Regions from separate parts of the Homo sapiens genome. Here region 2 is linked to region 1. Evidence: fine-mapped QTL for protein levels in blood plasma. A gene starts in region 1. The other region holds a variant in brackets. All regions are shown on one strand. Distances are between the middles of the regions. Region 1 holds the start of ADIPOQ (adiponectin, C1Q and collagen domain containing). Region 2 overlaps ADIPOQ (adiponectin, C1Q and collagen domain containing).

What was found. PIP is the chance, under the fine-mapping model, that this variant and not a neighbour inherited with it causes the effect. Protein levels are from antibody-based Olink assays in UK Biobank. Linkage for the fine-mapping came from a reference panel and not from the study's own genotypes, which makes the PIPs less certain.
Region 2: its variant is fine-mapped to the plasma level of the ADIPOQ protein (UK Biobank, PIP above 0.99).

Annotation. Positions count from the first base shown.
Region 1 is chr3:186,841,409-186,844,319 of GRCh38, reverse strand. It overlaps ADIPOQ (adiponectin, C1Q and collagen domain containing), which reads right to left and starts at 1,610. Exons shown (of 3, transcript NM_004797.4): 1 at 1,571-1,610. RefSeq lists an enhancer at 1-1,570, a cis regulatory region at 2,159-2,186 and a promoter at 1,588-2,286.
Region 2 is chr3:186,850,589-186,853,499 of GRCh38, reverse strand. ADIPOQ (adiponectin, C1Q and collagen domain containing) reads right to left here. Exons shown (of 3, transcript NM_004797.4): 2 at 228-449. The coding sequence starts at 441. ADIPOQ-AS1 (ADIPOQ antisense RNA 1) reads left to right here. Exons shown (of 4, transcript NR_046662.2): 4 at 258-1,614. Among named protein-coding and RNA genes, the nearest start is that of ADIPOQ-AS1, 9.3 kb to the left of the region's middle. RefSeq lists an enhancer at 450-2,911. The variant A/G (reference allele first, on the strand shown) is at 473.

The sequences.
Region 1 (2,911 bases):
AAAAATTAGCTGGGCGTGGTGGCGCATGCCTGTAGTCTCAGCTACTTGGGAGACTGAGGCAGGAGAATCGCTTGAACCTGGGAGGCGGAGGTTGCAGTGAGCTGAGATTGTGCCAAAAAAAGACTCCTCAAGACTTAAGGAAGAGTGGCAGCAGGGACTGCTGAGGAAGCTGCCGGGCTCCCTGTGTACCACTGGCCTTCATGAACAAAGCTGACACCATCATGCTCCTTCGGACATATTCTGCTAGCATAAAGGGACCCCCATCTCCCCAACCGAATTAGGCAGAGCTGGCCTTCCTTCTAGCGGAGTTCCTAGGAGTGAGTTGGTGCCACCCCTTGTGAGGCTTGATCCAAAAACCAGAACCTCTCCAGACCAGGGATCCATGTCCTCTAACACAAGAGGGGCAGACCTAACCTCTAAAATCCCTCCCACTCTAACCTTCAGCATCCACAGCTCAAAACAACCAGGATGCCTCAGAAACAGCACTCACTGGGGCGAGCAGGATTAGGCTTCAGAAAAACCAGGTAGATCCAGTTTCTTCTGTCAGAAAATGTTTTTTTTTAATTACAATTTTTCATAAGTTGCCACTATATGCCAGGCTTTTCTCATTTTATCTCATTAGAGCCTCTTTTTCTTTTCTTTCTTTTTTTTTTTTTTTTGACACAAAGTCTCGCTCTGTCACCCAGGCTGGAATGCAGTGGCAACAATCTCGGCTCACTGCAACCTCTGCCTCCCAGGTTCAGACAATTCTCCTGCCTCAGCCTCCCGAGAAGCTGGGATTACAGGCACCTGCCATCACGCCCAACTAATTTTTGTATTTTTGGTAGAGGCGGGGTTTCACCATGTTGGTCAGGCTAGTCTGGAACTCCTGACCTCAGGTGATCCACCCGCCTCGGTCTCCCAAATTGCTGGGATTACAGGTGTGAGCCACCATGGCTGGCCTCATTAGAACCTCTTGATTACCTTGTAAGATATCCCTATACCTACATATATCCCCAAATCCATAGACAACAACCATGTCACACTCATTGTATCTTGTGAACCCAATCCACTGTCTAGCCCATAGAATTTGCTCAGTAAATATTTGCTGAGTAGAATAAAGTGGCAGAGCTGGATTCCTAATTCCAGTCTGAAGTCAGTGCTCAGCTTGACTTTTCTGAAGCTGCCTTCATATATGCTTCTTCCTTTGCCCTACCTGGTCAAGCTAAGAGGCAATGTATTCCCTTATCCCCCTTAATCGAATTGGACTTCATCTGTGGACAGACCCTTCCACCTTACTGACCCTAACTTTTTCTCAATAGGTATCCTGCTACAGAGCGAACTGGGCAAAATTCAGAATGGTTCCATGCATCTTAGAAGGAATGTCTGAAATAACCCTTTCTCTCTTGGGGCTGTGGGAGAACGGAGGAAGAAGCCCAGTGCATATCTGCCTCCACCAGTGCTGCTCTGACCAGAGTATCCACCTGTATCCACTCCCACACTACTACGGACGGGAGAGCCTGGGTGATCCCAGCCAGAGGCTATGCATGCATCCCCCACCCAGCCTGGAACTTCACAGAATTGCTCTTACCCTCTGGTATGGAATCAGAACCACAGACTGCAGTCAGAATGGAAGTGAGGAGGAGATGGCCCAGCCTCAACAGCCTGGTACTCACGGGGGCAGGCAGTCCCCACCTCACAATTGTCATTTCCCATTGGCCAACTCAGTGAGGGCCAGAGGCCGGTGGGCAGGCACATGTCCCTGGCAGTTGCCCACAGCCTGCACCCTAGGGAACCTGGTACAACCCAGCTTGGGCTTCGGAAGCCAAGTGGAGCTTCAGTCAAAGCACTTGTGTTTCCAGGCCTTGACCCTTATTTTGCCTCCTACAACAGCAACAGAAGATGGGGCAAAAGTCAAAACCACAGCAGGAAAACAAGATTTTTTTCCTGCATCTGACGGAGAAACTTCCTAATGTAAATGAATTAATTGCTCAGTGGTCCAGGAGGTCTCCCCCTCCCATAGATTTGCCCTAATAAGTCAGGGACGCCAATTATCACACCACAGTCTTGCTCACTGTGCATGATTAAGTCTGAGACTGTGTACGTTCAGACAGTGAGTGCTTCAGAAGGGAGCACTGTCAGAGGGGTCTGCAATCAGGTAAGAAATAGAGCACATCCTCCACTCTCTGACCTGGACCCTGGATTTAGGAAAGACCTTGCACATGAATTCTGAGAACTGGGGTGTGGGGAAGTTCCTGGAGTGGTGTGGGGCTTGGCAAGTTAAAAAGGCCCTGAATTCTTAAAGCTTGTGGCCTCGAATCGTAATTTGAATCTAATATAATAGAAAACTTACATAAAATGTGATATTGGAATACCATCTTTCAAGATTTTTTGGTTCCAAAATTTCGGATAACATTTTGACAGCTACCTTGGTATGTGTGTGTGTGTGTTTGTGAGAGAGAGAGAGCCTGTTTTTCCAGTTCCTTAAGCATATATATGCCTATTCTGTCTCTTGTGGAACCCAGCTCTGGCCTAGAAGCAGCCTGGAGAACTGGAAGCTGCCACCCACTTAGGTGTTCCTAGAAAGTTTAGGCTTGAAGTGGCAACATTCAACACCTTGGACTTTCTTGGCACGCTCATGTTTTGTTTTTGAAGGGCAGGATCTGAGCCGGTTCTTGCAAGCCACACATTCTGATGAATTAAATTACGACCCCAGCAAGGGCTTAGGATGCCAGCACCAACTTCAACAAGACATCCAAAACAGAATTTTCTCAGACAGAGGCAGGGCAAGTGTCTGCCTGCCCCCCAGATATCATCTCCACAGTCCACACAGAGCCTAAAAATCTACCAGTAAAGTCAAGTCCACCATTAAAGTAAAGATCTGATGTAAAGCCTCAGCTTCCTGCTAATGTCCAAATATTTCAAGAGAAGT
Region 2 (2,911 bases), 9.2 kb before region 1:
GATGGAAAAGGAGCTGCAGATGCAGCAAAGCCAAAGTCTTGGTTATAGAGGCACCATCTACACTCATCCTTGGAAGACCAACCCCAAATCACTTCAGGTTGCTTATGGTTAACATAAAAAAGCTTTGCTTTCTCCCTGTGTCTAGGCCTTAGTTAATAATGAATGCCTTCATATAGTTTATATCAGTGTAGGAGGTCTGTGATGAAAGAGGCCAGAAACATTCTTACCTGGATCTCCTTTCTCACCCTTCTCACCAGGGGTGCCATCTCTGCCATCACGGCCTGGGGCCCCATTATGGCCCGGATGCCCTGGGATGCCCGCCATCCAACCTGTGCAGGCCCCCTTGGGCAGGGGAAGCAGGACTCCGGGCCCTTGAGTCGTGGTTTCCTGGTCATGACCGGGCAGAGCTAATAGCAGTAGAACAGCTCCCAGCAACAGCATCCTGAGCCCTGGAATCCACATGTGCACTGTC[A/G]GCCATGGAGAGACAGACCCCACACACACACCCAGTTGGGACCTACAAAGGACTCCGTCCATCTCAGCAGAGTCTACTTCTAGGAGCTGCTTTCTAAGTATTCAACTTTTCCAGGAAGACTTTTCTGAATATTGCAGCCCACCTTGATCTCTTTCTGCCCTGAAATCTGTAATACTTAGCATTATTCCCTGTGTGTAGTCTCCTTTCCTCACCAAGATTATGAATTCAGTGATTGCACAGATGACACTCCTCTAATTTTCCCATGTCTGAGCACAGGACCAAGCACAGGGAAAGCTCCAAGAGTCGACTTGCCAAGAATCCATCCTTGGGTTTCCCAAGTACGATGACACAGATTGCTCCATTCAATGCTAACCAGCTTCTCTCCTCTGGCTCCTTTCTTCTTTTTCTTTCCCCCCTTCTCTCTCATTTTCTGTGTCTATTCCTCCTTCTTACTCTCTCATTCTCTTTCTTCCTCTACCCCTCTCCTGGGGCACATGTTTGACTATTGGGTATATTACATTTGCACACATGCACACACACAAACACACACAGAGAAAAAGAGAGAGAGAGGGAGGGAGAGACTCACCTTGTGTTAAGCAGACAACGAGAGACACATCATCCCATGAACATATCCCCTGGCCCTTTGTTTGCCTGAGCCATCTTTAGCTGCCCCTCCTCCCCTGTCTAATCTCTATTCAGCTTTCAGGACCCAGTTTGGATGTCATCTGTTTCAAGAAGTCCTCCTTGTTCTCCATCTCACTCCTTGGCTGGTTCTTTCCCCTCTGTGTTTCTCCAGTGCCCTGGTAATATGGTTTGGGTCTGTGTCCCCACCCAAATAGCACGTCGACATGTGTTGGAGAAGGGGCCTGGTAGGAGGTGACTGAATCATGGAGGCAGACTTATCCCTTGCTGTTCTCATGATAGTAGGTGAATTCTCACAAGATCTGGTTGAAAGTGTGTAGCACTTCCCCTATATTCTCTCTCTCTCTCTTTCTCTCTCTCTCTCCTGCTGCTGTGTGATGTGCTTGCTTCCCCTTCGCTCTTTCTTCCACCATGATTGTAAGTTTTCTGAGGCCTCCCCAGCCATGCTTCCTGTACAGCCTGTGGAACTGTGAGTCAATTAAACCTCTTTTCTTTATAAATTACCCAGTCTCAAGTAGTTTTTTACAGCAGTGTGAGAATGGATTTATACACCTGGCTTAGCTCTATCATTGCACTCTGCTGTAATTTCTGTTTTGCTCACCCATTTCTCCATTAAACAGCAAGTACCAGGGGACAAAGACTAACACACTAATAGCAGAGTAGGGACTAAATAAGCACTTTTATAATGAGGAAAAGAAATCATGAGAGAGCCAGAGAAAGGAAGGGAAGGAGGAAGGAAAAGAAGAAAGGAAGATAAAAAGGAAGAGTGGAAGAGGGAAGGAAGGAGGGAGGGGGAATGTATTTGAAATATGTATTCTGGAGCCCTAGCAAAGAGCTCAAGTGGCACAGGTAGTCAAAAGCCTCCCTGTCTCAAAATCATTCTTTGATATCCCCCTCCCAGAAAAGGGCCCAATACAGGTATAGGGACTTTTATCCCCTCTCAGATTCTGCCTCCGATCTTAGGGGGATCTTAGGCCTCCACCTCAGATTGCTGAGGTCTTAGTCTTCCCACTCTCACCAAGGAGTTGGGAGAAAGCATCTCACAGAGAGAAATAGGTCCTAGGATCCTGGATTAGAGGCATCACTAAGACCCTCTGTGGGTTAATGTGGTTAATCCCAAGAATCTGATTCTAAACAAAGTGTAGTCCATGTACTTTATTTTACCTTAAAAATTCACTATTTTTCATCAGTTTGCTTGTCTCTTCTAGATTATATGAAGTCTCCAGAATTAGGTTTGTCTTCAGGACAACTGAAGGTTTGTTGAAGACAAACCTACTCCTCTGTGAGGGATGGAAGAAAGACCGTGATTGGCAATCTCACCCCAAAAACATGGGCCTGGTATCTGGAATCCCACTCCTATGCCCCATTACCTGGGGTTCTATACTACCCTCTTCACGTGGCACATCCAACTCATCTTTCATCTTTATCATATATATGAGATAAATTTTGTATATACATATAAACTATATGTATATATTACATATATAGTTCATTAAAAATAATAGTTATATAGTTCTTTGGACATGACAGAAAAGAAAACAATACTCAACTCCAAGAATGTCTCTGTTTATTTTTAAACATAGTGGAATCATACTTTATGTAAAACTTTATTCCTTTATTTTGTCTTTGGCATTTTCTAGTTTTTATAATGACTATTTTTAACGTCTCAGAGTGAGTGCTAGTCTAGTAAGTGGATATAATCAATATATATTTGACCATTTATATTTCATCAAACTTTTAGCATATTTTCATTTTAAAATATTATTTTATATTCTGTAAGAAATTATACTTTGATTT